Linked DNA regions of Homo sapiens: region 2 is linked to region 1. The links come from fine-mapping of genetic effects on plasma protein levels. Region 1 holds a variant in brackets. A gene starts in the other region. All regions are shown on their reverse strands.

What was found. PIP is the posterior inclusion probability: the model's chance that the variant is causal. Protein levels are from antibody-based Olink assays in UK Biobank. Linkage for the fine-mapping came from a reference panel and not from the study's own genotypes, which makes the PIPs less certain.
Region 2: LY96 starts here. The variant in region 1 is fine-mapped to the plasma level of the LY96 protein (UK Biobank, PIP above 0.99).

Annotation. Positions count from the first base shown.
Region 1 is chr2:71,818,591-71,835,035 of GRCh38, reverse strand. No RefSeq gene overlaps it. Among named protein-coding and RNA genes, the nearest start is that of CYP26B1, 320 kb to the left of the region's middle. RefSeq lists an enhancer at 3,636-4,835. The variant G/A (reference allele first, on the strand shown) is at 7,329.
Region 2 is chr8:73,983,034-73,999,478 of GRCh38, reverse strand. LY96 (lymphocyte antigen 96) reads right to left here and starts at 8,087. Exons shown (of 5, transcript NM_015364.5): 1 at 7,925-8,087. The coding sequence starts at 8,036. It also overlaps the pseudogene DSTNP3. RefSeq lists enhancers at 7,306-7,375, 7,746-7,845, 13,937-14,519 and a silencer at 14,239-14,439.

The sequences.
Region 1 (16,445 bases):
GCTCAGGACTCTGTCTCTTGCTGGGTCCCAGCCTTAACATCTGCATGGGGAGAGGTCAGATGAGGGACACAGATTAATGAGAGAGTAGACAGCCTATGCACAGTAGACAGCGCAAGAGAGTAAACAGCTCAAGAACCTCTTTCAGGTTCCAGGGAACAGGGGACCCTTGGGTACAAAGGATCTCAGGTTGGGGGGTGCTAAGAATGCATCCTTCCTGGAACAAACTTGAAGCCACAGATTAGTAGTTTCAGTCCTGCACATGGCACCCCCAACTATTGCCAACTTTAAGGGAATTTCCATCTCTCCTTTGCCCCTCAGTTCACCCTCCGCCCCTGCCCAATCCCCAGGATGGTGGGAAGGGAACTGTGGAAATTCCCTTTTTAGGAACATGGGGTAACAGAGAGCAGGATAAAGGGATACTGAGAACAGAAAAAGATCCTTCGACCCCCACCCACCCACTTTCATCCTCAGCCAGGGCACTCTCCGAAAGGAAGAGGGACTCACCAGACTCATCTGCAGGTGCTGAATTTTCCCAAGGCCTCTAGCCCACCCTCCTCCAGTCTCCCAGCCAGCCCATCCCACTGGGGAGTCAGCAGGCCCAGCCAACAGCTGGATTGTGCAATCAGAAGCCCAGATGTGGCTGGGACTCTGGCTTGCGGCAGCTGCCTCTGTCATCACCCAGGGCCTATGGCCTTCATTTCACCCTTGAGCTGTACTCTAGCAACATTCCTGTCCCCATCCCAGACAGGTCCCACCCAGCCACCATCCTCCTCCAGCAGCTCCAGGAAACACTTGGCGGCTGAGAATCAACAGCCTAGCTCGGCCACAATATGTCATGCGACCAGTGTGGGAGGCCTTACCCTACCTAGGCCTTAATAGGTATGAGCTAAAGCTTGAGCCCAAGTTCTCCAGTGAATTTTCTCCTCATTCCTGAGGTCTTTGAGTTTAGTGATGCATTTATTGCTCCCCACAGGAACTGGAAAAGATATAAAATTGCTTTTATTGCCCTTGGGTATTCTAAACAGGGCAAGGTCACATCCCGTTGTGCAGCTACCATGACCACTGTTTTCATAAAACCTTAGGTGTGGTCAATGTCATGCAATGCCATTGATTGTTTGGCCTCAGAGTTGGCAGCTGGTCAGACTTACAGTAGGCCTACTCACTCCTCCAGATAGGAGAGCCTGGCTCAGCAGATGCACTGTAATTATTTGCTAAACAGAAAAATAAAATGAAGATTCACAGAGATGGAGAGAATTGTCCAATGCCACACAGCAAATCAGCAGCAGAGATGGGATCAAAGCCCAGGTGTTAAGCCTTGCAATCAGATTCTTTTTCTCCATACCATACTCTCTGACTTCATAATGATAATGGTGGTAATAATGGTGATAGTACTGGTGGCTGATGATAATGGTAGTGGTCATGATGGTGATGGTGGTGGTGATGATGATGATGATGATGGAAATAGTGATGATAATATTGGTGGTGATGGTGGTGGAAATGGCAATGGTAATGGCGATGATGGTGGTAATGGTGGTGGTGATGATGGTGATGATCCTGCTGGTGGTGGTAGTGTTGATGGCAATAATAGTGGTCATGGTAGTGGTGATGATGTGGTTAGGTGATAGTGGTGATTATGGGAGGAATGGCGATGATACGGTGATGATGATGGTAATGATGATGGTTAAGGTGGTTATAGTATGATGATGGTGGAGATGGCGGTAATGATGGTGACACAGCCTTGATGTGATAATGAAGATAAATTGCCTTCTCTCAGGGAATTCTCTTTAGGAATACATATTTTTGGATTTAATTCTTCAACCTTGGAATGATTTGGAGTTTGCGTCCTCATTCAAATCTTCATTCAGCAGCAGAAACCAAGTGTTGTGTGGCTGCCATGAGAATGCCCTGTTGGAACTCCTGCTGTGATGAGCAGATGGACAGGTGGCTCCTGCTGCTGTCCTTATAGATCTGCCATATCACTTGTGCCAAGGCCCTGCTTCCCAAGGGCTACTCTGGCCAGTGACCAACCACAGCGAGGTGACTGGCTCAGGCACTCCCCGTCCGACTCCACATCATGGATGAAATTTTCTTAGAACTGCACTGCAGTCTCAGACTCTTCCTCCCCAGCCCTTCTTTCTTCCTTCTCTCCTCCATAGGAGTCCAACATGCAGTGCCATCTGAAGGCTGTGCTCCCCTTCTCTAGCTCCTTCTCTTTTATTCCTCACAGCCATTTCCCCCAACAAATCTCTTCCATGTCTGCTCATGTCTTGTTCTATGTTTTTCAGCAGAATCATATTAATAAGCCTGGGTCACCAAACTGAGTAATACCACTCTGGCAAAAATAAAAATAATGGCTAAAATATTTTAGCAATGAGAAGAATTTTCTTCTGTGACTTAGAAGCTGTATCTGAGGACAGTTCCAGGCAGGAATGTTTGTAAACTTTGAGAAGGAAATTTGAGTTTGCCTTTGGCTAATTAAATCCTTGCTAGGGATCTGACATACAGTGGAGAGAAGGGAGGAAGGTGGGGGATCCACAGGACAGAGATCCCCTAAGGGGAATAAGCTAGATATGTTTCAGGGATGGTGAGCGACTCAGAATGACAGGAGTGGAAGAGAGGAGGAGGGGAAGAGAAGCTAAAGCTGGGCAGAAGCGGGGAACCAGGTAAAGACCTTGCAGCCAGAGCAAAGACTTGAGATTTGATGAGACAAGAAAAGAGGTAACAGAAGACTTGTGAAGGGGTGGCAGTGGCATTGCAGAGGGGCAGGGTAAGAAGGGGTTTCAGGGAAGGTACCACTTGGGGGCTGTGGGGGTCATCCTGCCAAGCAACAAGGAGAGCTGGGATTGAAATGGTAGATGTGGCAGAAATGGAAAAGTGGTGCTGAGAAAGGATGGACCCATTTTGCTGCCTAACTGGATGTGGGAGGTAAAGAAGAGGAGCCATGTCCCAGGGGCTCAGCCTGGGAGGAGACTGGAGGCATCCCTGACATAAACAAGATGGCCGAAAGGAGTTACATTCTGGAGGGAAGACTGTGAATTGTTTTGGGTCATGATTCTCCAGTAGTCATGTCCACTGAGGACTTGAAAACATGAACCTAGAGCACAGAAAAGAAGCTTTAGACTGGGTTGTAGCGAGGGAGCAAATGAACTCTCCTCTAGGAGCCGTTGTGTGCACTATAGATTCCTAAATGGAGAAAGCAGAGTCTTAGAAAATAACCTGCCCCTGCTTTGCTGGCAGAGAGGTAGGAAATGGCGATGGAGAGGCAGGGAGCTGGAAGGTAACAAGACAGACAGGAAGGGCAGAATTCCCGGGAAACAAGGTTGAGGCAGACATTTGCAATCCTGAGGGCTGGATCCCACAACCCGCGTCCTTCCACAGCCTTCCAGCCTGAGGGGTGCCCATATTGGCCCTGAAGGAAATGGGGACAGGCATCTGGGGCTTCCCATGGACCTCAAAGAAACTCTCCTCTAGGGTCATGCCAGAACAGAAGGGTGACATTCTGGCAGAGCTCGGGACTGTGGAGCCTCCCATGGGGCAGCCTCCTACAGCCTGCTCCCGTGGTGCAGTGGACACGTCGCTCTCCTGGGGTCAGCGCTGGGGCGGCAGCAGCCTCTGTGTGAGGTAGTGGTGCTGGCATCTGCTTCCCTGGAACAGGCACTAGGAAAACAGATGACCTCAGGCTGAAAGCTCTTAGAATCATTGCTCAGAAGAGGGCAGAAAAGACAGGCTAAAAATACACGCAGACCCAGATTCCCTACCTCTCCAGAAAAATTCCAAGAGAGTGTCCTACAAATGCATCTGATGCAGGCCCCTGAAATCTGCTGTTTCCTCACCAGCCTATCCATCACTCTCTCCTCGGGGCTTACACACCTGCCTTCTACCCAGGCCTGGCTCCTCTCCATCTCCAGAGCAGGCTGGGCTCCTTCCTACCTCCCAAACTTTGTCTGCATTCTCCCCTCCCCGAAGCACTCTCTCTTCTCCTCGTGGTTTATCCTCAGCTTGTTCAGGACTCATATTCATCTCACAGATCACCTCTGACCTCTTCTGGGGAGGCTCCCAGGCTTCTAAGCTCCTTTTGACTAAGAACCTGAATCACACAATGTGCCACTGGATGGTCTATCTTTCCCTCAATTTCTGAAGGTTAGATTGATCTTCTTATAAAAGAATCTTCTTAATGGCAGTCGGGGGAGGAGCGTGAGGAATCTCTGCCTGGGCTTTGCCCTGTGCCTCCTCCCTTTGGTTGAACCTCTGGGGGCCCTGGTGAGATCTCACATCAGAAGCTGGATTTCGATTGCTGCCGTTGTAACTGACTGGGATTTTTATTCTTTAGTGGCAGGAATGAGGACACGTGGAGTCAAGGGTGTGTCTCATGGCTGACCATTCCTATACAACTGTACCTTTGCTCTTCCCCCAGGGCCCTCTCCTTCTCACTGCCTCAGTCCAGCTGTCTCACTCTGAATGTGGGAGCCTCTGAACTACAAAAGCCCTGGGCGTAAGCAAACAATCTGACCCCTAGCAGGTCTCTAAAAGTTGCAGGTCGATAGAAGGAAGGAAGGGAGAGATGGAGGGAGGGTGAGAGAAGAAAATTAGTTTTTAAATCTAAAACTTCGGGCAGAAAAATGGAAATGAGGAATAAATATGTAGACTTTCTATAGCACAATTTAGTGTGTAATTATAACATACAAACAGTACAGTGGCTCACAAAGACATCAGTCTATCTCAGTTTTAACAAAGTAACTACAGATTATGGTCAGAATAGTAAACATTAAATCTTTCAATATTCTGGAGAAGAGCCAGGATGCTTACCTCTACAGCTCAGCTTGACTCACAAAGGGAGGGAAGTCCTCCTAGCTTCTCTCCAACCTTGGGCATGGCAGGGGGAATGATCATGAACCTCCTCCTCATCTTCCTCCTATCTGGTCCTTGAGAAACGCGTTGCTCTAGTCAGAGCAGAATGCTCCCTTGACCAGGCTTTCTGAGAGTGGGCTCACTCAGATACCACCTTCCTTTCCCTCTCACTTCCTGGGACTCAGCCTTCCCAGGCAGGCACGACCACCTTCCTGCCCACTCTCGCTTACTGTGCTGTGTCACACCTCCCAGACACAAAAGCAGCCATGTCTTTCTCTGTTTGCCTGTGGGTAGGTGGATGGGACATTTCCAGCCTATAGCTAGGTGGAGACGTGGATGTTAGGGACTTGGGGACAGGAAACATCCCTTGGGCTTCCAGGAAAGGGTCTCTGGGGCCAGCCCAGCTTATCAGAGAAGTCCTGCTTCAGGGAGATACTGGGCACTCATCAGAGATTGAGCTACTACTGTGTTTCCCTTTTGGATTTTATCCTTATGCTGTGATTCCCTTGGCAGGAAACCTGGAAGGAAGGGAGGTGAGCAGCCAGATTCAGGCCCCAAACCTCCCTGGAGTCCCAACAAGAAGCCAGGGCAGCAGTAATTCAGTGAAGATGCTGAATATGCCGTTCTCAAGGTCACACTCCCCCCATATCCTGTACATTCTGTGAAATTCTGCCCACAAGGCAGTGGATTAAGGTGGAAAGGAAAGGCTAAGAGATAGGAGACCTACAATTCCATCTCTGCTCCTAAAGAAATCCTTCCTCCTCTGCGGCCTCAGTTTCCTCAATGTAGAATGAGACTCCTCACTTGAAGCAACTTTATGGCCAGAATTTAGTTTGATACTTACAACCTTGTGTGCAGGAGAGAAGCCGACATGATCCCAGGCGTTGGGATTTAAGGGTGGAGTGGTGGAGTTAGGAGAGGAAACTCACATGTGTGAACCAACTGGCGAAAAATGCAAGAGAGAGTTTGATTGAATGCCTGAGTTAGTGGATCAGACCAGCAGTGCCTGGCTTGTGGGCTGGAGCTCTTGCAAGAGATCTGTACATCCATATGCCCTACAAGCATCGACCGAAGGCTGAATAAATAATACAACTTGCACGTATATGTGGGACTATTTTTCAAATCATCAATGCTGCTGTCACAAATAAAATGCAGATTCATTTGAAAGTGGTCCTGAATGCAGACTCCCTTTGGGTTGCTATGCATTTTCTCAAGCAGCAGACCTTATAAAGACAATTGTTGTTTACAGGGACATAAAACAATATCTGGCCTTTTATTTAAAATACTCGAGGGAAAAAAGGCAGGGGTGGATGAAACTGGAAGGAGAGAATGTTAATAATTATTGAAGCTGGATGATGAGTATTTGGGGGATTATTATACTCTTGTCTCAACTTTTGTATGTTTGACATTTTCCATAATAAAATGTTTCTTTAAAAGTATAAATGCTCTTTCTTATGTGGTCATTCATGAAATCTTTTGACATTAAAAAAGGGATTATTTGTGGAAAGCTGCTCACAACACACTGTTGAGTGAAAAAACACAGTTATAAAGCCATATGTAAGTATGAGTCTAATTCGCTTTCTTTAAAACAGCAAGGGTGTGTGCGTGTGTGTGTGCAGGAAAAAACCTTCATTTTAGACCTTCACTAAGATGTGAATGGTGGTTAACCCTAAGTAGAGGAAATGGGGCAGGTTATATTTTCTTTATTTTGTTTATCTGTATTTCCAATGAACATACTTTCCTTTTGTGATCAGCCTGAAATATTTGTTAAGATTTATGGTAGGTATTCTTAATTCAATAAGGCTGGGAGTTGCTCCTTCAGGGAGATGGGCGTGGGTGCCAGACCTTGGGAAGCTGTCATGGTGGACAGCCTCACCCCGGATCTCAAGAATGGGTAGGATTTAGAAATCCCCAGGCGGGTGAGAAGGCGTGCTGGGCAACACATAAACCAGGACATCTTGTCTTGAGAGAGTGACTTTCCCAGGGCAGGGGTGAGCCCAAGGGCCAGGGGCTGCAGAGGGTGTAGAGCAGGGATGGAGGGGCTGGGTGGGGCAAGGTCTTGAAGGGCCAAAGGGTTCTGGGAAAAGAGGAGCCTGAATTTCTGGCTAAAAATTGCCCTGGGTATGTGTGTGAGTGTGCACGCGCATATTAGCTGTGGCATTCAGAGCAAGGAATAATTGGAAAAACATGGCCAATGCTGAGCCACACGCATTTGGGGACATGTGGCTCCAGTTCTAGGATTGTTTGTCATTCCTTATTTCAGGGAAGCAGGAAGACAAAAGATGAAGCATTGAACTAAACGAAGATTCAGATGACACCAAGGAGTCAACTTGAGACCAAGACCATCAGCTATCAAAAGACATCTTTTGGGGCCTCCACCCATCCCATGACCAATCACACTGTGAGGTTGTCCATATGTCCTGCCAGCTGCCGCCAGGACCAGTGCCTTAGCAACAGGAGCTTTTGCACGCTGGGAGAGG[G/A]AACTCTGGCACCTTCCCAAGGGTTTGCCGGAAGGGAGCTGGAGGGGCAGCAGGATGGAGAGGAAGAGGGCGCATTACAGGCAAACTGGAGACAATCCGGGAAACTCCCAGAAACCCCAGCAAAGACTGCAGAGAGAGCCTGGGGATCCACAGAGGCCTACATGACCTCAAGGCCCAGAGTCACTGGCTTCCAGAAGGCAGGGAAGTTGATGACATGCATCTCTGTACCTCTGTGTCCTTACCGGTAACTAAAGCAGAGGCCTGGGGGCCTGGTGGGGAAAGTGGCCCAGATCAGACCTCTAGGGGATCCAGAGAAGGCAGAAGACCTTAGAGGATTCAGAGCCTAGGCTGGGAAAGTAGTCTCTTGCTGGGAAGACCTGCAAAGGGATGGCCATTTGCAACCCTCTTGAGCAAGATGGTGGAAGGTGGACTTGTAAACTGCTAGCATGGGGCTTCCCTGAGTTCTCTTCACTCATTGCTACCTAGAAGACCTTGACTTCACCTAGGGTGCAGAGTCTTGAGGTTTTAAGACTGAATGCGACCTTACCCAACCTTGCTCTGCCCTTTGCCAGAACACTACATGTGGTACTTGACTCTGGAAAGACAACAAACGTGAGATTCCCTTCCCAGTCCTGCATCCCTAACTCCTTTCGCCTGGCTTATCTCCTCCTAGGAGGCCTGGGCGGCAGCCTTCCCCAGGAATGTAAGAGCTTCCTCTTTGCTCTTCCAGCCAAGTCCCTTTCCCCCTTCACTTAGCTAAAATAAGATTGGACTTTCTCAAAATGTTTACTAGGAAACTAAGAAATAAACAAAACAAAACCAAAGGCAAGTGATGGAGGTTGATGAACTATTACAGGATTGTAGAATCTAACAGCAATCTTCGGTCAAAGAACCCAACTCAAATCTCTCGGGATTTTTTTTAGAAGTGCTTCTTATTTCTTCTTTCTTATTTTATTATACTAGTCCTCATTCTCATTATGTTTTGCTAATCCTTTTGAGCACATGCTATGTGCCAAGCATTTTGCAACATGATCATTTATCGTTTTATCAGGCAAGGCATTGTGTACATATATCATTGTATCATGCTCAGACGGGTTAAATAATTCATCCACAGCTGTTCCCCTGGAAAGTGGCAGGGCTAGATGTTGAAACCAGGCTCTCTGACCTTAAAACTTATGTATTGATCACCCTCCACCCTGCCTCTCTTTGACTGTGTGTCCACACCCCTCCTTGTAACTCAAGGCATCTAATGTGAAGTGCCCTGCCAGGGACACATGTGAACCTTTGGACCCATTCCTGCTCCAGGTGAAATTCATGCAGAAGCTCCTGACACTGGTTATGAATAGTTTGCAACTTCAAGAAAACAAATAAATGCGATTGTCTTACATTTCCTTTACCTTTTCTTCTTATGGACTTCAGGTGCAGAGTTACAGTGTCTGCTCCATGATTCATCATCATTAGTTCACATGTGGATTTCCTTTATTTCTTATATATGTATTTGTTTATTTTTAAGAAAATAAACACCCACAGACCACCACCCATCTCAAGAAACAGAACATTACAGACAATTTACAACTACCTATTTTCCTCCCCAATCCTGTTGCCTGGCCCCATCTCCTTATCATTCTCTTGCTTTTTTAAAAAAAAACTCATTTAAACTTATATATGTATATATGTATTTTAAAACATAATTCTTTAGTTTTATTTGTTTTCAAACTTGTGGGATTAGAGCTGAGGGCCAGAACCTTCTGAAGTTTCTTTTTTTCATTCTAAATAATGTTTCATCCAAAATGTATGGATTCATCCATGTAAGTAGTACATGGATGTATACTTTTTTTCTTTTCCTTGTTCTTATAACTACAAATAGACATATAAGTTTAACAAGATTTTTCACCACCTTTGAATCTAAAATATCTTGCAGTAGCTCTAGAATTTAGCTCTTTTCTTAAAAGATACTTCAAAAAGTATCTTCAGTGTGCGTCTTTTGCAGCTGGTCATCTGAGCCCATGTATAACTGGGAATATTTTTATTATGTCATTCAAATGACAATTTGGGTATATACAAAAGTCTTAATTCAAAGGTTTTCCTTCAATATTTAAAAAATATTAATCCATTGTCTTTTTTACTCTGCTGCTGCTATTCAGAAGTCTGATGTCAATACAGCTCTTGCACCTTTGTAGTTGTTCAGTCCTTTCTCTAAAGAAGCTTTTAAAATGTTCTCTTCTTTCATATTCTTATATTTTACTGTAGTGTATTCAGGAGTGAGATTTTCCTTCTTTCTCCTGTTTGCACTTTATTGCACTTTATTGATCCATTTAATCTCATATTATTTATTTTTTAATTCTGGCAAACATTTCTCTATTATTTTATCAAATACTTTCTATATATTTTTATCTTCTTAATTCTTATGCTTTTATCTTCTTCTGGGACTCTTATTATCTGGATGTTAACACTTGCATACTCTATCTTCTTTAACTTTTTTTGTGTATGTTCTATTCCTTTATCCTTTCCTATCACCTTCTGGAAAGCTTCCTCAATCTGATCTTCCAATTCATTAATTTGTTCTCCGGCTGTATTCATACTATTATTTATTTGTGTATCATGTTCTTTATTTCAACTATTATATTTCTCTTATGTAATAATTCTACCGGGTACTTTTAAAATTTTTAAAATTGTCATTTCATAGTATTACATATATGGTGCTCCATTTCTGTAAATGTGTTTAGCTTATTTTAAATTTTCAATCCAGTTTTCTAATATTCCTACTTCAGAAGTAATGCGGTTTTACTCTTGAGGTGGTGGCATTCCCTCAGGGTTATTTGGGCACGTATTCTCCAAGGGTCTCAGTTACTGTCTTAAAATACATAGTAGAGAAGGGAAGGCCACACTGTAGTCATGGGGCCAAGACATTGAGACACTTGTTTACCATCATACTTCAAAGCAACTCCTCAGGCCAAAGGTTGGTGGAAAGAACAATCTCTCTGGATAGAAACCACTAGCCTAGGGTGAGAGAGGAAGAAGATAGAATATGCAGCTGAGCTTGTCCCAACCTGTCTTCCCCAACTACCTCCTCCAGAGGAGTAGGTGCATTGCCCAGACAATACCCCTACAGATACCTGCTCAAACTGCACGGCCACTGTCTCCAAAATCTGCCGTAAGAGGTACACAATGCTTGCCCTAATGTAATGTAGGGAAAAGGCAAGATCAGATCTTAAACCACTTTTCTCTCATTTAACCTCTCATTGTCACTATCAATCACCTTTCATTCAGGTTTTTACCAAAATACCAGTTCAAAGTACCTTTCAGTTTCCCTGGATATTTCTATTTTTTTTTCTTTGCTGGCGTGTGTGTGTTTGTGTGTGTGTGTGTGTGTGTGTGCACGCGTGTGTGTGGTGCTGGTGATGGTTGTGGTTTTGTTTCCTGGATTCTGCATTCTCCTTTATAGGTTCCCCTTTATAGAGGCTGATTCTTGGAGAGGGAGCCATTGTGCTGTGACTATTTGCACCTAGGTGGGAACCAGATACCCTCATCTTAACCATTTCTATGTCTATGTTCCTACAATCCTTTCATCTGGACATTCCCAGGAAACAGATTATCTCCGGTTCCTTTTTGATTTTTAAATGACATTCTACAACCCATCTAAAAAACTGAAACATACTTAATACAGAATGCTCTAAAAGTACACAAACACACAAAGCAAAAGCCATCTACAATTTTACTACTGTGAGATTTCTCCTATGAATTCAATGTGAATAGATCCTGTCAGAACCTTCAAGAGGGTTGTAATTGTGTACATGCCAGCCAGGTGTCTCAGATTCCTATTTCCTCACACCCACTACTAATACTGTATGTATTATTGATTTATTAAAAGTTTGCCAAGCTGGTGGTGGAAAAATGTGTAATTTCTTATTGCTATAACTTGTAGTCCCAGGTCTAAAGAATAGTTGGGCACTGTTCCATATGTGTACTGGATGTTTGCCCTTCTGTGAAATGCTCATTCTTACCCTTTGCCCAGTTTGCTTTGAGTTGTTTGATTTTTTTTCTTATTGATTTGTAGGGCTTCTTTATATATTACAAATATTGACTCTTGCTATATGTGTTTCATATATTTTCTTCTCTATGGAAAAATGATTTTTATTTAATTGTGTTAATGTTGTCTTTGAAAATAAAGATGTTTACACTTTTCATGTGGTTGAATCTTTCAATATTTTTCCTTTAAGACATCTGAGTTTCATGTGTTGCCTAGCAAGGTCTTTCCCACCCCATAATTAGAAAAAAAATGTCAAAGGATAAAATAAATATTTCTCCAGAGCAAATATGCAAATGGCCAATACTTATATGAAAAGATGCTCAACATCATTATCCATCAGGGAAATGTAAATCAAAACAGCAAGGAAATACCTCTACACACCCATGAAGATGACTATAATCAAAAGGTCAGATAACAGCATCTTCAATGAATGGTGCTGGGAAAACTGGATATCCTTATGCAGAAGAATGAAACTAGAACCTTATCTCTCACCACTTGCAAAAATCAACTCAAAACAGATTAAAGACTTAAATGTGAGACCTGTAACTGAAGCTACTAGAAGAAAACAGAAGAAAAGTACCGCATGACATTCGTCTGGGCAAGGACTTTTTAAACTAAGATCTCTAAAGCACAGGCAACAAAAGCAAAAATAGACAAATGGAATTGCATCAAACTAAAAAGCTGCATAGCAAAAGAAACTATCAACAGAGTGAAAAGACAATCTACATAATGGGAAAAATATTTGCAAACTATGCATCTCACAAGGAGTTAATATCCAGAATATGTAAGAAACTCAAAGAACGCAATAGCAAAAAAAAAAAAAAACAAATAATATGATTTTAAAATGGGCAAGTGATTTGAATAGACATTTCTCAAAAGAAGATATACAAATGCCTAGAAGGTATATGGAAAAATACTCAACATTACTAATCACCAAAGAAATGTGAATCAAAACCACCATGAGATACCATCTTATCCCAGTTAGAATGGCTTTTATCAAAAAGACAGAATGATAGATGTTGGCAAGGATGTGGTTAAAGGGAAAACCTTGTACACTGTCTGTGGAAATGTAAGTTAGTACAGTCATTATGGATAACAGTCCTCAAAAAATTAAAAATGGAACTATGATATGATCCAGCAATCCCACTACTGGGTATATATTCAAGGGAAATGAAATAAGTATGCTGAAGAGATATCTGCACTCCTGTATTCATTGCAGCACTATTCACAATAGCCAAGATATGGAATCAACCTAAGTGTCCATCAATGGATGAATGGATAAAGAAAACACGATGTCCATATACAATGGGATACTATTCAGCCATAAAAAGAATGAAATCCAGTCATTTGGGACCACATGGATGGACCTGAACGACATCATGTTCAGGGAAATAGGCTAAGCACAGAAGGCCAAATACTGCATGATCTCCCTCATATGTGAAATCTTAAAAAGCTGATCTTACAGAAGTAGAGAGTAGAATAGTGGTTACCAGAGGCTGAGGAGAGAGTAGTGGAGAGAAGATAATGGGGAGAGGTTGGCCAACAGGTTTAAAGTTGTGATTAGATAGGAGAAATAAGTTCTGGTATTCTATTGCATAGTAGGGTGACTATAGTGAATAGTAATGTACTGTATACTTCAAAATAGCTAGAAGAGAGGATTTTGAATGATCTCACCACAAAGAAATGACAAATGTTTGAGATGCTAGATATGCTAATTACCCTGATTTGATCACTACACAATGTATGTATCAAAATATCACACTGTACCACATAAATATGTACAACTCTTATGTGTTAATTAGAAACAAAATAAAACCTGTAAAAAATAAAAATAAATTTTACTTGTAAAAATAGGTTATATAATAACAAGTAGCGAAATTGGAACCTTTATACACTGCTGCAAAACAGTACAGCCATTTTGGGAAGAGTCTAGCAATTTCTTAAAAGAATAAACATAGAGTTACCATAGGACCCAGCAATTCCACTCCTACATAAATCCCCAAGAGAAATAAAACCAAATCTTCACGTGAACACACACAAATATTGTACACAAATGTTCATAACAGCAATATTCTTAATAACCAAAAAAATGGACACAACCCTCAAATTCCTTACACTAATGAATAAATAAATAAAATGTGGTGTATCCATATAATGAAACACAATTTGGCAATAAACAGGAGTACTGAGATATGCTACAACATGGATGAACCTAGAGAACATTATGATAAATGAAACAAGCCAATCACAAAAATACCACATATATGTTTTCATTTGTATGAAATGTCCAGAATAGGCAAATCTATGAGCAGGAAAGTAGACTAATGATTGCCTGGGGCTAGAGAAGTAATGTGGGGGGAAAATGATTTTTTCAGGGGAGTGATGGAAATGTTCTAAAACCAATTGTGGTGGTGGTTGTATAACAGCGAATATACTAAAAGCCATTGAATAGTACACTTTAAATGTGTGACTTGGATGGTATGTGAATTATATCTCAATAAAGCTATTTTTAAATGCTTATATTTTATTCTAATTTTATACAGTTTGCTCTATAAATCTTTAAACTATATGGAATTAATATTTTGTGTAGGATGTGAGAAAGGAATTTTATTTTTTTAAAGGATAGTTATTAGTCCCAACTCCATTTCTTTTTTGCATAAACTATTCATCTGGCACTGCCTTGAAATGAAATGTTTATTATATACTGATATGATTTGGCTATGTCTCCACCCAAATCTCATCTTGAATTGTAGTTCTCACAATCCCCATGTGTTGTGGGAGGGACCTGGTAGGAGGTAACTGAATCATGGGGGTGGTTACCTCCATGCTGTTCTCATGATAATGAGTGAATTCTCAGGAGATCTGATGGTTTTGTAAGGGGCTTTTTCCCCTTTTGCTTGACCCTTCTCCTTGCTGCCACCATGTGAAGAAGGACATGTTTGCTTCCCCTTCTGCTATGATTGTAAGTTTCCCGAGGCCTCCCTAGCCGTGCTGAACTGCGAGTCAATTAAACCTCTTTCCTTTATAAATTACCCGGTCTCGGGTATGTCTTTATTAGTAGCATGAGAATGGACTAATACATATACTAAATTTTCAAAAATATACATGAATCTGTTGCTAGACACCATTCTCTATTTCCTTGTCTATTTGTGCTTGCATCAATATTGCATAGTTTTGGTTAGTGTTGCTTTATAGAATATTTTGGTATCTGGCTGGACTCTTCTCAAACAAAATAACCTATGCCATTTTCTTTCATTTACTCTTTCAAATGAACTTTACAACCAATATGCTAAACCACATAATTTCAAAAAAGAAAAGAAAATTGGGACTTGATGGAATTCCATTGAATTTATTGGTTGATTTGGGGGAGTGTTGCCATCTTTGCAATAATGAATCTGTCTTTCCATTGAAACAAGTGTTTCATCATTCAGTGACATCTATGGTTTCCTTGCAGATGTTGAATATTTATTGTGAAGTTTATGATTTTTTTTTACTATTGCTAATGAGAAATAATTTAGTTTTATTTTCTAATGATTATTGACAACATATAGAAAAGCTATGTTTATCTTATATTTAGCTAACTTAGGATATCCTCATATTAATTATCATCGCTTTTCCATTTATTCTTTTGTATTTTTTAGTAGCTGTATTAACTAGGAATTTTTAATTTTAATTTTTTAAAAACAAAAAGCAAACATATTTGCTCTCAGAAAGAAAAATCCAGAGGAAAGACTGACATTAGGAAAATGTAGTTTTTCTCCATATCTCTCCTTGGCCTTTGGATCTGTAAGATTAATTCTCAGGCTACATGCACTTGGTCATGGCCATCACCAAATGACCTAAGGGCATGGAGTGTTTTAATTGGCTAGGCCTGGGTCACAGACTTCACTCTTTTGCTGAAAGAGGAGTTCCATCCAGATTACATGGAGCAAGACTGTATGAAGGAATGGATCCTCAAGTGAAATTGGTGAGGAAGAAGAAGCAACAGATGCTGGAGAGCCAATAGATATCCAATTTGGAGACAATCAAATGAAATGAAATTATGAAAATAGTGGTGTTGTTGCCTCTTCATTTCCCATATTTGTGCTACTCATTTTTTTTCTTATTGCATTGTCTAGGATGTTCAGAACTAAGCTGAAAAACTGTAGCAATAGTATTCCCTGACTTTATTGGTATTTTACCATTTTGGACAAAGTTATCTGGATAAACTTTGATACTCTTTACTAAGTAAGAAAATATCATTCTACGTCAAGCTGATTGAAAATTTTTAATTAAAAATAAATGATTATGCATTTGATGTCTTATTTGTGTGATACATTACATGAATACATTTCTTAACATTGAACCATTTCTGCATTTCTGTGAATTGCTTTTATAATGTGGGGCAGAGTGAACAGACTTTTTTTTAAATAAAAAGCAATGAGCAAGTTGTGACATTTTTCCATTATGGGTGAGCTCCTGGTTAAAGGAGAGAAATGTGGTGAGCATCTATGGAGGGCATTTGTGAGCCAAGTTTGAGGATATGGCAGCTGGCTCTGTTTTCAGACCCAGACTTTAGGTCTGTGCCCTTCCAGGACATGAGCCACAAGGATGGTAACCATGTTAGAAGCAGGCACCCAGGATAGCCCAATCCACCAACTGCTCCTTCCATATGACCTCTATTAGAATGGTCTTGGAGGTAACAGACAGGATTAAAGTCTGATGGAGGGGGAGAGGCACTCAGAAGACAGATCAGGACACTGGGACAGCCATCCTGTGACTTGCCCCAGTCACATAGGTTTTGAGCCCAGGCAGTCTGCCTGCAAAGCCTGAGCTCTCAGCCTCACTACCATATTGCCTTGAGGGCTGATCTATAATGCTCAGAAGAAAGACCATAAATATGAAAATGAAAGTTCAGGAAAAGAGGAAACAGTTTCCTTCCCCACGCCTACGTCTGACATTACCTGGGCCTGAAGCTTCTTCTGGTCCACAGAGACCTTTTCATCAGGATTGGCTACTTGGTCCCCTGCTGTCTAAAAGGGTTCTCAGGGATGGAGGTCTCCTATTCTCACACCACACACATTTTTTTCTAGAGATGGAGAGGTGTT
Region 2 (16,445 bases), not on the chromosome of region 1:
AGACCCGCCTGGGCAACATGGCAAAACCCCGTCTGTACAAAAAATACAAAAATTAGCTGGATGTGATGGCACATGCCTGTAGCTACTCAGGAGGCTGAGGTGGGAAGATCACTTGAGCCCAGAAGGTCAAGACAGCAGTGAGCCAAGATTGTGCCACTGCTCTCCATCCTGGGCAACAGATTGAGATCTTGTTTCAAAAAAATTAAAATTGCCAGGTGTGGTGGCTCACACCTGTAATCCCAACACTTTGGGAGGCTGAGGAGGGTGGATCACCTGAGGTCAGGAGTTTGAGATCAGCCTGGCCAACATGGTGAAACCCTATCTCTACTAAAAATAAAAAATTAGCCGGGTGTGGTGGCGGGTGCCTGTCGTCCCAGCTACTCAGGAGGCTGAAGCATGAGAATTGCTTTAGCCCAGGAGGTGGAGGCTACAGTGAGCTGAGATCATGCCACTGCATTCCAGCCTGGGCAACAGAGCAAGACTTGGCCTCAAAAAAAAAAAAATTATAACAAGCTATCTGGAAAAGAAATTAGAAAAACAATCAAATTTACAATAGTACCAGGAGGAATACAATAAACTTCACTAAGGAAGTTAAAAACTTTTATAGTAAAAACAATAAAATAAATTGATCAAAGACATTAACAGGACAAAAAGAAACAGAAAGATATCCCTTGCTCATAGATTGGAAGACAATGTTGCTAAAATGTTCACACCATTCAAAGTGTCCTACAGATCCAGATTTGAAGCAATCTCTATCAAAATCCTAATGGCATTTTTCCTTTTTTTTGAGAGAGAAGAGACAGGATTTCACTCTGTCACCCAGGATAAAGTGTAGTGGCACAATCATAGCTCAGGGCAACCTCAAACTCCTGGGCTCAAGAGATCCTCCCACCTCAGTCTCCTGAGTCGCTAGTACTACAGGTGCATGCCACCACACCCAGTGAATTTTTTTTTCTTCATTTTTTTGTAGAGATGGGGCCTCACTATGTTGCTTAGGCTGGTCTTGAACTCCTGGCCTCAAGTGATCCTCTCACTTCAGCCTCTCAAAGCACTAGGATTATAGGCATGAGACACCATGCCTGGCACCAGTGACATTTTTTACAGAACTAGAAAAAAAAAACTATAAAATGTGTACAGAATTTGTGATACTGTGATATAATAAGAAACATATATTTTGTCTCTGCCCCAGTTTATGGCACAGAGATCCTAAAACCCTTGTAGTTTACAGAACAATGGGAGTGGTAAGAGAATTTTTGGTCCTAACATTTGGTTTTTGATCCCAATTTCTTGCCCAGAGCTTCTAGTTCCTTAGACTGTCCTGGGCAATAGCAGCATCTTTTTTTCTAATGGTAACTTTTGGTGGGTTCCTGGATAAGGGCCAGTTATGAGAAAGACCAAGCCATGATGAGAAGCTTGGAACTTTTAGCCCCACCTCCCATCCTGCAGGAAGGGGAGAAGGGCTACAGACAGAGTTAACATTCGATTATGCCTACATGATGAACACCCCATAAAAATTTCTGGACGACAGGTTTAGGAGAGCTTCTGGGTTGGTGAACACATGGAGATGCTAGGAGGATGGTGCACCCAGAGAGGACATGGACACTCTGGTCCCCTTATCCTGCACCTTACCTTATATATCTCTTTCATCTGGCTATTCGTCTGTATCCTTTGTATTAATAATATCCTTTATAATAAACCAGTAAACATAAATGAGTGTTTCCTTGTGTTCTGAGAGTTAGTCTAACAATGATCAAACCCAAGAAAGGGGAACCTCCAATTTATAGCCAGTGAGAACCACAGGTGTCAGCCTAGGGCTTGCACATGGCATCTGATGTGGGAGGAAAACTTGTGGGAAGGACCCCCTAATTAGACTGTAATTCTAGGTAGTCTTAGTATTGCTTCAAGATCCTGAGGAGTCCTGGAGGTCTTGGTATAAAGTTGAGATTTCACTCTAATTGTAGTGAAAGCTACTGGAGGATTTTCAGCAGGAGGGGTCACATTATCTAACTTATTTTCATTTTGCAAAGATCTCTCTGGCCTCTGTGTCAAGAATAGATTGTATGGTGGCAAGAACTGAAGCAGAGGGAGGGCAATTTAAGAGGTTTTTGTAGAGGCCAAGGAGAGACAAATGTGGCATGAGTGTTAGAGAGCAGTGAGAAGCACTTGGATATAGAATAGAATCTGGAGATCATGAAAACAGGAATGACTAATACAATAATGTAATAGGTGAGGGAAAGAGATACTTAAGGATACTTCTGGTTTGGGGCCTAAGGAATTAGGTGGATGATGAGATGGAGAAGACTTAGACAGAAACAGGTTTAAGGCCGGACACGGTGGCTCATGCCTGTAATCCCGACACGTTGGGAGGCCAAGGCAGGCTGATCGCCTAAAATCAGGAGTTCAAGATCAGCCTGGTCTCTACTAAAAAAATACAGACCAGGCATGGTGGCTTATGCCTGTAATCCCAGCACTTTGGGAGGCCCAGGCGGGTGGATTGTCTGAGGTCAGAAGTTCGAGACCAGCCTGACCAACATGGTGAAACCCCGTCTCTACTAAAAACACAAAAATTAGCCGGGTGTGGTGGCGCAGGCCTGTAATCCCTGCTACTCAGAAGGCTGAGGCAGGAGAATCACTTCAACCCAGGAGGCAGAGACTGCTGTGAGCCAAGATTGCACCACTGCACTCCAGCCTGGGCAACAGAGCAAGACCCCATCTCAAAAAAATAAATCCCATCCCCCAAAAAATACAAAAATTAGCCGGGACCAGGCGCAGTGGCTCACGCCTGTAATTCCAGCACTTTAGGAGGCCAAGGTGGGTGGATCATTTGAGGTCAGGAGTTCAAGACCAGCCTGACCAACATGGTGAAACCCCGTCTCTACTAAAAACAGAAAAAAATAGCCAGGCATGGTGATGCATGGCTGTAGTCCCAGCTACTTGGGAGGCCGAGGCACGAAAATCGCTTGAACCTGGGAGGTTGCAATGAGCTGAGATCGTGCTGCACTCCAGCCTCAGTGACACAGCAAGACTCTGTCTCAGAAAAAGAAAGAAAGAAAGAAAGAAAGAAAGAAAGAAAGAAAGAAAGAAAGAAAGAAAGAAAGAAAGAAAGGAATGAAGGAAGGAAGGAAGGAAGGAAGGAAGGAAGGAAGGAAGGAAGGAAGGAAAAGAAACAGGTTTTAGGCCTAGCGTGGTGGCTCATGCATGTAATTCCAGCACTTTGGAAGGCCAAGGCAGGAGAACTGCTTGAGCCCAGGGGTTGGGACTGGCCTGGGCAGCACAGCAAGACACTGTCTCTACAAAAAATTTAAAAATTAGCTAGGTTCAGTCTTGCTCTGTTGCCCAGACTGGAGTGCAGTGGCACAAACATGGCTCACTGCAGCCTTGACCTCCTGGGCTCAAGCTATTCTCCTGCCTCAGCCTCCTGAGTAGCTGGGCTATACTACTGGTGAGTGCCATCACATCTGGCTGGCCATCCTGATTTAAAATGCAACCCCCTAGCTTCTCCATTTTTGCATCTTTGCACCCTCTACCCCGCATCCCCCAGCCTTATTTTTCTTTCACAGCAATTACCACCATCTGACATGCTGAATATTTTACTGAATCCATAAGGGCAGGGACTTTTGTCTTTGTTGTTAATTCACTTATCTCCTCAGTTCCTAGAGTAAGTGCATGCTAAATGCTCAGAGAATATTGGTTTCACTAAATAATCTATTAATTCCTTGGATTTTCTAACCATCTGTAGCAAAAAAAAAATAAAGATTAGAACTGAGACCAATGACTCAGGATCATAGGAAAGCATGTGCCTAAGATCCTAGGAACCAACTCACACACCCACATTTTTTGCCTTTTCCAAAACTGGGAGAATAAATCAGTCAATTTTTGCCATTTTTGTATGTTATGGACCGACAGAAATGTGTCCTCATTCCTCTCGTCCCCATTCACATGTTAAGGCTCCAGTACCTCAGAATATGACTGCATTTGGAGACAGTGCCTTTAAAGAGGTAATTAAGTTAAAATGAGGCTGTTAGGATGGGCCCTAATCCAATCTTGTTGGTGTCCTTATAAGAAGAGGAAATTTGGACACACAAAGAAACGCCAGGGATGTGCACACACAGAGGAAAGGCCATGTGAGGACACAGTGAGAAAGCAGCCAGCTGCGAGTGTCTTAGTCCACTTTGTGCTGCTATAACAGATTATTGGTGTCTGGGTACTTAATAAAGAACAGAAATTTATTTCTCACAGTTCCGGAGGCTGGTAAGTTCCATGTGAAGGTGCTGGTATCTGACAAGGGCGTTCTTGCTGTCTCATCCCATGGTGGAAGAGCAGAAGGGCAAGAGGGGGCAAAAGCAGGAGACATAAGGGGGCTAAACTTGTCTTTTTATGAGAAACTCACTCCCTCAATAATGACATTAATTTATTCATGAGAGAAGAGCCTTCATGGCTTAATCACCTCTTAAAAGTCCCACCTCTTAATATCATCACAATGGCAATTAAATTTCAACATGAGTTTGCAAGGACACAAAATTCAAAACACAGCAGTAAGCCAAGGAGAGAGGCCTCAGGAGAACCCAATTATGCAGACACCTTGATCTTGGACTTCTAGCCTCCAGAACTGTGAAAAAATAGGTTTTTGTTGTTTGAGCCATCCAGTCTGTGGTATTTTGTTATGGCACCTGAACTAATTAAGACACTGTAGCCCGGAATCAGTGGCTCAGGCCTGTAATCCCAGCACTTTGGGAAGCTGAGGCAGGAAGATTGCTTGAGACCAGGAGTTCAAAACCAGCATGGACAACATGGCAAAACCCCATCACTACAAAAAACTTAAAAATTAGCCAGACATGGTGGTGCACGCCTGTAGTCCCAGCTACTTGGGAGGCTGAAGCGGGAAAATCACTTGAACCTCAGAGTTTGAGGCTGCAGTGAGCCATGATTCCACCGTTGCACTCCAGCCTGGCTGACAGAGCAAGACTCTGTGTTTAAAAAAACATACACTTAGATGCCCAGCAGCTTGACCAAATGGAAATCTATCTCTTCTTTTTCATGGAAATCATCACAGTGAATCAGAGGTTGTTGTCACCAACACCCTCACAATGGTACCTAGAGGAATCAGTGCTTCCCACAGGTGATGCATTTTTGGCTGGGCAGGATGGATTCTCTCAGGCCGGGAAGGCAGTCATATGGCAGTGGGGATGGCAACAAGCAACATCTTGCTGTAGATGTGTATTCCAGTGGCTTGCCCACAGTCCCTTTGTCAGTGGGGCAGCAGGAAAGGACCACAGGGTTTCTCAGAGAGAAGGAAGGAAGATCCTCCTTCATAAAGTCAAATCAAATTAGCCAGGCATGGTGGTGCATATCTGTAATCTCAGCTATTTAGGAGGCTGAGGCAAAAGAATCGCTTGAACCCAGGAGGCAGAGGTTGCAGTGAGCTGAGATCGTACTACTGCACTCCAGCCTAGATGACAGAATGAGACTGTCTCAAAGTAAAAAAAAAAACTAGAAAGTCAAATCAAAAGATACACCAACGGTGATGGTTTCACAGCAATGTGCATATACTTAATACAATTGAGCTAAACACTCAAAAATGATTAAAATGTGAAATTTTAGGCCAGGTGCAGTGGCTCATATCTGTAATCCCAGCACTTTGGGAGGCCAAGGTGGGAGAATCACTTGAGCCCAGGAGTTCCAGACCAGCCTGGGCAATATAGCAAGACTCCATCTCTACAAAAAAATTAATAATTAGGCCAGCTGCGGTGGCTCACGCCTGTAATCCCAACACTTTGGGAGGCCAAGGTGGGCGGATCACCTGAGGTCAGGAGTTGGAGGCCAGCCTGGTCAACATGGCAAAACCCTGTCTCTACTAAAAATACAAAAATTAGCTGGGTGTGGTGGTGGGCACCTATAATCCCAGCTACTCGGGAGGCTGAGGCAGGAGAATCACTTGAACCCAGGAGGCGGTCGTTGCAGTGAGCCAAGATCATGCCATTGCACTCCAGCCTGGGCAACAAGAGTGAAACTCAAAAAAAATTATTTAATTAATAATTAGACAAGTGTGGTGGCATGTGCCTGTAGTCCCAGCTACTTGGAAGGCTGAGCTGGGAGGATGGCTTGAGCCAGGGAGGTGGAGGTTGCAGTGAGTGGAGATCATGCCACTCACTCCAGCCTGCACAACAGAGCAAAACCCTGTCTCAAAAATAAATGATAAAATAAGATAAAATGTGAAATGTTTTAAAAAGACAAATTGAGTTATTGTTAAGAAAAGATTGAAAGCTAAATAATAATACAAAATGTTACATCCATAAAAACCATATAAAGAGTGGCATAAACCGGGCAAGGTGGCACACGCCTGTAATCCCAGCACTTTGGGAGGCCGGGGTGGGCAGATCACAAGATCAGGACATTGAGACCATCCTGGTCAACATGATGAAACCCTGTCTCTACTAAAATACAAAAAAAAAAAAAATTAGCCGGGTGTGGTGGCGCACACCTGTAGTCCCAGCTACTCAGGAGGCTGAGGCATGGGAATCGTTTGAACTTGGGAGGCAGAGGTTGCAGTGAGCCGAAATCGCGCCACTGCACTCCAGCCTGGCAACAGAGCAAAACTCTGTCACACACACACACACACACACACACACACACACACACACAGTGGCATAATTAGCACATGGTACAAAAGAGCCAAAGGAGGAGAGGGAAGTGGGGGCCAAGTAGAGTAGGAGCCTTGCTGGAAGAGGGGAATGCAAAAGGATCTTGCAGCATGGAGAGATTTTAGACATACGTTTGGAGGGAATTCAGTGCAACCCACCAGGAGAAGGGCCATGGTGTGTGACTGGCCACACTCCTAAGTCTCCTCCTCACATGTGGCAATTATCCCAATTTCCCGAAAGTCACTTTATATTAGCATTTGGCAGAGCATGTTTCTCAAGAGAGTTAACATACACTCCAGACTAAAACACAAACAAACAAACAACAAATGAAATTGAAAATGTGGTTAAACAGGTGCCTTTATTGCAGAACTTCTCAGAACCCAAAGTACATCTGTAAATCTCTCCCAGATGATTAGGTCATAGATCCTATTTTCCCAAAAGAATCTCAAAGAACTGGTATTTTGGGAAGCACCACTTTAAACCTCCCAGCTATTGCTAGTGGGTGGAAAAGGGCAGCCAACCCATGGTAAGCAGCACGGTGGAAAGTACCGAACCAAAACAGCTGTCAGGCCTGACACTGTGCCTTCAGATCCCAGGACACTTGCTAATGAGCAGCTGGGGCAGGGGACAGTGACACAGCCAGTGAATAGTATTAGGGTATGGCTGACTCCAAAAAAAAATTAAGAGTATTATTGTCTCTATGTGACCCTATGCTAAAAAACTTCACCTCACAACACCCTTATCAAGTAGACTATAAAATCACTTTCACTTCAGTGCTAAAAAGGCTGGAGTACTTTGCTTAAGGTCACACAGCTAGTGACAGAACCAGGCTTTCATCCAGTGAGGGGGATGATTCCAAGAGCACTCAAGAGTCACAGCTTAGAGCAGAAATCAACTCCAGGAAGCAGCTGGGACTGCTCTACCATCTCAAGAAGAAGAACTAGTAAGTGTCAAGGCTGAGGTGAAAGCTCAGAAGCAGATGGTTTTATTAAAAATGGGCAGAACCAAAAACTGGGCTCAGGGTAGAGAAAGATGACGCAGGGAACAGAAGCACTTGGAGGTCAAGCACAACACAGTTTAGAGACTCACAAGCTCTGTGAGTGGTCGAGAACATTCTCATGGGGCAGCTGCCAGCTATTGCTTTTCCTGCTGGCAGCGTCCGCCACAGCAGCTGGAACACACTGATGTTTCGTGTGTTCCAGCCACAACAGTGTACGGTTCTCGTGAAAACTTACCCTCAAAATAGTTGATGCTACAATTATTTGTTTTGCGGTTTTACTTACCACAGTAGGTGTATGAAATACTTGCATCGGATGAGTTGCAGACCCAATACTGCTTCTGAGCTTCAGTAAATATGGAAGAAAACAGGGTGGAAAAAAACAGAAATGGTAACATGATTCAATATCTCCAAAGCTTTACAAATGCAAAGAGGATCAGTAACTAATCATCAGACTCTTCCTTTTCAGTAAGCAGAAAAGATTTAACTTAGTCATCAGTCACATGATTTCTGAGTTCCTATCCAACTGTTTCCTCTTTTTTTGTGTGTGTGTGCTCAACATTTGAGCACTTCCTGTAAAGGAAGAGAGAAAAATGATTTAGAATGTACTCTTCAAACACTTACTGTAAATGAGAGTGATCAAAGACTTAAAAATAAAACAAGACACTTTGGCCAGGCACGGTGGCTCATGCCTGTAATCTCAGTATTTTGGGAGGCTGAGGCAGGTGGATCACTTGAGGTCAGGAGTTCAAGACCAGCCTGGCTGACATGATGAAACACATCTCTACTAAAAATACAAAAATTAGCCAGGTGTGGTAGTGCATGCCTGTAATCCCAGCTATTCAGGAGGCTGAGGCAGGAGCTTCACTTTATCTGGGAGGCAGAGGTTGCAGTGAGCCAAGATGGCACCACTGCTCTCCAGCCTGGGCAACAGAGCAAGACTCCATTTCAAAAAAATTTTTTAAATGAAAAATAAAATAAAATAAACAAGACAATTCCCAGTCAACTGTAACAAAACCAGTCCCTAGGTCCCCCTGAAAGTCTCAACAGACAGGCACTCCTTTTCCCTCTGCATTATTCTTCTCTCCTACAGCTCTGTATAACAGCAGTCCCCAACATTTTTGGCCTCAGGGATCAGTTTCATGGAAGACAATTTTTCCACGGACTGAGGGGATGGGGAGGGATGGTTTCAGGGTGAAACTGTTCCACCTCAGAACATCAGGCATTAGATTCTTATAGGGAGCACGCAACCTAGATCCCTCGCTTGTATACTTCATAACAAGGTTCCTGCTCCCATGGGAATCTAATGCTGCTGCTGGTCTGACAGGAGCTGGAGCTCAGGTGGTAATGCTCGCTCACCTGCTGTTAACCTCCAGCTGTGCAGCCCACTTCCTAACAAGCCACAACCAGATTCCTAACAGGCCATGGACTGGTACTGGTCCACGGCCCCCAGAGGATGGGGCCTCCTGCTTTATAAAACAAATTCTCAGCTGGGCACGGTGGCTCATGCCTGTCATCCCAGCATTTTGGGATACCAAGGTGGGTGGATCACTTGAGGTCAGGAGTTCAAGACCAGCCTGGCCAACATGGTGAAATTCCGTCTCTACTAAAAATATAAAAATTAGCCAGGCATGGTGGCACACACCTGTAATCCCAGCTACTCGGGAGGCTGAGGCAGGAGAATCGCTTGAACCCAGGAGGCAGAGGTTGCAGTGAGCCAAGATTGGGCCACTACACTCCAGCCTGGGCAACAGAGTGAGACTCGGTCTCAAAAACAAACAAACAGGCCAGGCGCAGTGGCTCACCTCTGTAAATCCCAGCACTTTGGGAGGTCAAGGTGGGCGGATCACCTGAGGTCAGGAGTTTGAAACCAGCTTGACCGACATAGTGAAACCCTGTCTCTACTAAAAATACAAAAATTAGCTAGGCATGGTGGCAAGTGCCTGTAGTCCCAGCTACTCAGGAGGCTGAGGCAAGAGAATTGCTTGAACCGAGGAGGTGGAGTTTGCAGTGAGCCAAGATTATGTCACTGCACTCCAGCCTGGGAGACAGAGCGAGACTCCATCTCAAAAAACAACAATAACAACAACAAATCAAATTATCATGGCCCAGAGAGCTGCACCTATAGATCTGAAGTAAACAGTCTCATGGAAACTATTTCTTTTCAGCAGCAGGTTTAGTTACAGGACAGAACAGGGCCAGATAAGACCCCAAACAGGGGACACTAGCTGTAATTCTGTGCTGTGGGCAGGGACTCCACCAGTCTTAATAATGTATTCACCTACAACAAGCTAGAGCTCAAGAGAACATTTTGAGTCCTAATAATGAAATGTCATCCTTTTGTTATGACATGTATTTCATTTCAAAACTCTCACTCCATTTTAGAAAGACAGCTATTCCTTTAGATATCTTGCTACTTGAAATCCTTTACAGGATATAGCTTAGGGTTAGCAGCCAAAAATGGCATGGAGTTTTGGCCTAAAAATCTGCACACTTAAGAAGAAAATAATCATACGTTGGTAAAAATATTTTACAACAGAAGTGTGATTTTTTCCATTTTTTTAGAGATAAAGTCTCACTGTGTTGCCCATGCTGGGGTGCAATGGCTATTCTTAGGTGTGATTATAACACACTGCAGCCTCAAATTCCTGGGCTCAGCTGGGACCACAGGTTTGAGCCGTGGCTCTTGGCCCTGCCATTTTCAAAAAGGCAAAAGTCCAAGGGAGGAGGGGGAAATGGGGAGTTGTTCAATGGGCATAGAGTCTCAAGCTGACAAGATGAAAGAGTTCTAGAGATCTGTTGCACAACAAGGTGAATATAGTTAACACCACTGAACTCTATGCTTAAAACTGGGTAAGATGGTAAATTCTTTAAAAAACACAATTTTAAAATAAATTTAAAAGATGGAAAAAAAAAAGACAACCACCCATGAACACCCTTAGTGGTCTCAAAATACCATTTCCCACTATAAGCAACCAGGACTCCTTGGAGTCTGGGGTAGAAAATGTACAAAATGAGCCTAAAACACTTTGTTATATTAGATAACCAATTTGAAGACGGTTCCACTGAGCAAAGATAGGTGTTTCTAGTTTCCTATAATGGCTGTAACAAATTGCCAAAAGATTTTGTGGCTTAAAACAACATAGGCTGGGCACAGTGGCTCATGCCTGTAATCCCAGCACTTTGGGAGGCCAAAGCGGGCAGATCACCTGAGGTCAGGAGTTCAAGACCAACCTGGCCAACATGGTGAAACCCCATCTCTACTAAAAATACAAGAAATGAGCCAAGCATGGTGGTGGGCATCTATAATCCCAGCTACTCGGGAGGCTGACGCAGGAGAATTGCTTGAACCCAGGAGGCAGAGGTTGTAGTGAACCGAGAGATTGCACCACCACACTCCAGTCTGGAAGACACAGCAGGACTCCATCTCAAAAAACAAACAAAAAACTGTAAATATATTCTCTTACAGTTCTGGCGGTCTGAAGTCTGAAATCAGTTTCACTGTACTAAAGTCAAGGTGTCAACAGAGGTGGTTCCTTCTGGAGACTAAGGGGAAGAATCTGTCTCCCTGCTTTTTTCAGCTTTTAGAGCTACAATCCTTGTATTTCTCCATCTTCAAAATGCATCGCTTCAGTCTCTGCAATCTCTGCTTCCATCATCCCATCACCTTCTTCTTTTTTTTTTTTTGAGGTGGAGTCTCCCTGTGTCGCCAAGCTTGGAGTGCAGTGATGCGATCTCAGCTCACTGCAATCTCTGCCTCCCGGGTTCAAGTGATTCTCCTGCCTCAGCCTCCTGAGTAGCTGGGACTACAGGCACGCACCACCACGCCCAGCTACTTTTTGTATTTTTAGTATAGACGGGGTTTCACCTTATTGGTTAGGCTGGTCTTGAACTCCTGACCATGTGATCCACCTGCCTCCTCCTCCCAAAGTGCTGGGATTACATGCCTGAGCCACTGCACCCAGCCCATTTCATCACCTTCTGCTCTGATTTCATGCCTCCTTCTTATAGGGACCCCAGTGATTACAATGGACCCAGCTGGGTAATTCAGCACAATCCGAGTTAAAATCCTCAATTTAATCACATCTGCAAAATTCCTTTTGCCATGTAAGGTAATATTCACAGCTTCCAGTGATTAGAAGGTGAACATTTTTTGCCATTATTTAGCCTATCTCCATAACTATGTGAACATTAATAAGATAGTAACTGCAATAAGTTGAAATACTTTAATATATTTAAATCCATAAGCTCATAACATTATATGTATTTATCGTTTTGTGAGACAGGATCTACCTCTTTCACCCAGGCTGGAGGGCAGTGGCATGATCACAGCTCACTGCAACCTTAAACTCCTAAGCTCAAGCAATCCTCCCTCCTGAGCCTCCAAGTAGCTGGGACTACAGGCATATACCCCTATACCCAGCTAATTTTTTTAGTTTTTTCTTAGAGACAGGGTTTCACTGTGTTGCCAGGGCCAGTCGCGAACTTCTGGCCTTAAGCAATCCTCCCCTCAGCCTCCCAAAGGGGTGGGATTACAGGCGTGAACCACCGCGCCCCGCCTCATAACGTATTTTTTAAGTCTACTTATCAATAGATGATGCTAGGAAACCAAATCTATTTTTAAAACTGGCAAATAAAAGGACAGAATCAAGCATTTATACTGACTTTTCTATACAAACTGAACTGCTCGGTTACCAAATAGCAGAGACGGGCAAATTTCTCTTGCCTTCTTGTGCTTTTAGCTCTATTTTTAGAAGTATTTCAGTTAATAAGTGAAAAGGGAATAATAGAATATAACCATTTTTCAACATCGAATGAATTGGTGGACTTAGGCATTGAGCATCAATGGTTGCTACCATCACAAAGAGACAAAACAATATTACGTACCTCTTAATGGGAGAACACTATGGTGACTGGCCTCCAAATAGCTCCCAGTGAGCCTTACCTCCTGGTGTACATGTCCTTGTGAATCCCCTCCAACATCAAATAAGGCTGACTGTGTAACCAATAAAGTATTGTGCAATGACAGTGTGCAAATATCATGTAGGTCACACAACACATTGTATAACCTTGCTCTCTTGGATCACTTACTCTGGGAGAAGCAAGCAGTGCTAAAGAGAGATCCATATGGTGAGAAGCAGAGACCTCCTGCCAAAGAGCTTGTACCACACTGTCAGTCATGTAAGTGAGCCATCTTGGAAGTGGGGGTTCCTCATGCCACAGTCCAGCCTTCAGATGACAGCAGCACCAACTACCTCCTGAGAGAGCTAAAGCCAAAACCACTCAGCTAGGCCACTCCTCATTTCCAGACCTACAGACACTGTGCAGTGTTAGAGATGTTTATTGTGGCTTTAAGCCTGTAAGTTTCAGGGGTAATTCATTATGCAGCAAGATAACAAATATGATCATCTATAAAAGTAGTTTTGTCCAAAATAATCAAACCTCACTCTGATGAAGTTTTAAGATCTACTTACCTATTTATAGGAAGTATAGAAGACAGAGAAACATGTTAAAATACAGCTCAGGGATACAAGTAGAAAATCTAGACCATGAGAAGATCTAAGTGACAAACAATGATTTCTTCAACAGATAATTTGCAAGGGAAAAAAAAATGAAAATGGAAAGGCCTGGCCGGATGCAGTGGCTCACATCTGTAATCCCAATACTTTAGGAGGCCAAGACGAGTGGATCACTTGAACCCAGGAGTTCAAGATCAGCCTGGGCAACATGGTAAAACCCTGTCTCTACAAAAAAATACAAAAATTAGCCAGGCATGGTGGCACGCACCTGTAGTCCCAACTCCCCTGGAGGCTTCAGGTGGGAGGATTGCTTGAGTCTGGGGGGTGGACTCAACATCTAAATGTCTTCTAAATGTCTTTTAGAAGAGCCTTAAAAACCATTTAAACAATTGGTGTGTGTAAGATATGAAACTTATTTGGAGATATATATATATAATTTTTTTAACCAACTCTTCATTCTGTTCTGATTATTTGAATCTTAAATCAAACCAAATGTGGGAAAAAATTATGAAGCAATTGGAAATTTAAACAGACTGATAGATTGATGACATTAGGGCTGTGAGGTTGTTTTGTTTTTGTAGATCTGATAATGGTATTGTAGCTACATTTTAAAATAAGTCCTCATCTTGTAGAGTTACAAAAGTAAATATTTAAGAAAGAAATATTATTATGACTGGAATTTGCTTTCCCCAAAAAGTAGAGGGCAAATGATTAGGTCTAGATGAAACAATAGTGACTATAAATTGGTCATTGTTGAATCTGGATGATAGAGTCATGCAGGTTCACTGTACTCTTTTACTTTTGTGTTTGAAATTCTCAATAAAAATAAAAGCAAGTTCAAGGTGTTCTAAAAGAATCAGAATAAAATTTTTACAAATACATTCAAGCTAAGACTGCCATTCATATCTAATGGCCATCTTGTTACTTTTGCTTCCAAAAGCCTTTCAGTACAGTGAAATCTACATTAGAGAAAAGGATTGCAATATTTTATTGTTAACAGGGTTATTACCTGATGTAACCCAGATGTCAGCTAGGATCACCTTGCCTTTTCACATGCAAATAGGTGACTTTTGTGATGCAAATAAGTGATTCACCTTTGCTAGACAGTGAGAGATTCATTACCTTCCCAGTCTTCCTGAGATTACTCTGCCTGGGGTAGGATAGCAAAGTGGCATGAGGGAGGTGCCTATGTTTCTCCTCCTAACCTTGGCCTGAGTTGGTTCTGCTGATTATTTCAGTGATGAATCATCCTGTTATCCTATGCATGCTGATCCTTTCTCTGTCCTAGATTCTCACTCCATATCATGCCCTTGAGATGTCACCTTTCCCACTTAGTGAAAGCATATTTTTCCCCTAGACTACCAAGTTGCCTTCTGAAGAATTATTCTGATATCAACCAATAAAAACAAGTTTTTCACTCCACTACACACTGATAAAATGCCTTGAAATTTCTTTTTCATTGCATCCTTGGATGTTGCACAGATCATTTTACTTTTCAGAGGTGCTAGTTCTCATGCCTACAAAAAAAAAATCAACTCTTCTGTACTGGATTCTTTTGTTTCAAAGCTTGCATCATACAAAGCACAGCGACAATCTTTTTCAGGAAGCATTCCCACAAAATGCTTGAAAGGACCAGTTATGGTTACACCAACATCTCCAACCAAGATCTCTTTGCCTTCTTCTACAATGATGCACTTTTCGTCTGCACCGAGACAAAAAATGACAGCCTTCTTTCTTTTCTTGATTTCTTCTGGTGTGGAGCATTTACGAACTTTCATGTCATAAAAAATGCGACATACTTCATCAGCTACTTGCACTCCTGAGGCCATCTTCGCCTCTGGGGTTGCAGGGATGCGGGGGAGGGAGCCGGTGGGCAGTGAGTCTGCAGGGCATCCTCTTCACGGCTGTGGGACCGAGAGCACAGTCATAAAATGATCACATGGATATAGAACATGTAAATGTTAGATATGAGTTCTAAATTTCTCTTCAAAGAGTCAATATGTATGTTCAATTCTTTGCCTTCTACTTTTAAACTTAACTTCCTCGTAAAGCAACCTTTTCTGATTACCTGCTCCACCCTGACTCATTCCAATTACCTGCTCATTCTCCACAACCATTTTTCCCGCCAAACCACTCACCCTATCAGTCTCTTTAAATTAGCCAGTCGGAATTAGTTTAGCCTGTGCGGTCTAACCCTAGCCAATAGGAGAACAACAGAGCAGCAGGGGCCACATGTGTCAGGAATAAGACCCCCTTTTCCTCCCTTGTCCAAGTGTGCGCTCACCATTGCTCCATCTGTGAGGGCGCCCCCTTCTATAGAAGTAAACTGCCTTGCTGAGAAGAAAAAAATAAAATGTTATATTTGAGTGCTATTTCTTTTGCAGCACCAAAACTTTATTTATAACATAAAGAAATATATTGCACTTAAAACAAGTTATGAAGAGATGTAATATTGGAAGAGATCTTTAAAATGTAAACAATGCTATTTTTTCTAGGGGGAACTAGGAGTGATTTTTTCCTTTTTTGTTTTTGAGATGGGGTTTTGCTCTGTCACCCTGGATGGAGTGCAGTGATGTGATCCCAGCTCACTGCAGTCTTGATCTCCCAGGTTCAAGCGAGTCTCCCACCTCAGCCCCCCAAGTAGCTGGGATTACAGGCAAGAGCCACCACACCCAGCCTCTTTCTTCCTTCTACTTTCTAATGTATCCATAATAAACATTTGATCATAGAATAACTTTCTATAGAAAGATATCTCTTATCTTAGGGGTGTCCAATCTTTTGGCTTCCCTGGGCCACGTTGGAAGAATTGTCTTGGGCCACACATAAAATATACTAATGATAGTGATGAGCTTAAAAAAAAAATCTCAAAAATAAAATTTAAGTTTACGAATTTGTGTTGGGCCACATTCAAAGCCGTCCTGGGCTGCAGGCTGGACAAGCTTCCCTTATCTAGTAGGTTGCTATGAAAAAAATAGAAACACATCTCTCATTCATTGCTAGGATACATCTAGGGGACAAAGGACAGAGAAGCAAGCAGGCAAAAACCCACCTTGAGCAGAAGATGGCACAGAGGAATGGCGGTGGGAATTCTCAGTCTGGTGAGCTGGACAATCCAAGCAGAGGGCAGGCTCTACGTCTCAGAAAGACAGCTTTTCTGTCTTATCTCCTATGAATAAGTTTCGAGCAGCCTGGGAGTTGAATGATCTCTTTGAACAGATGTTCCTGCTGCTTCCCCATCAACCTCCCTCATACACATGTACGCCATAAAGTTTAAATTTACTATCATGG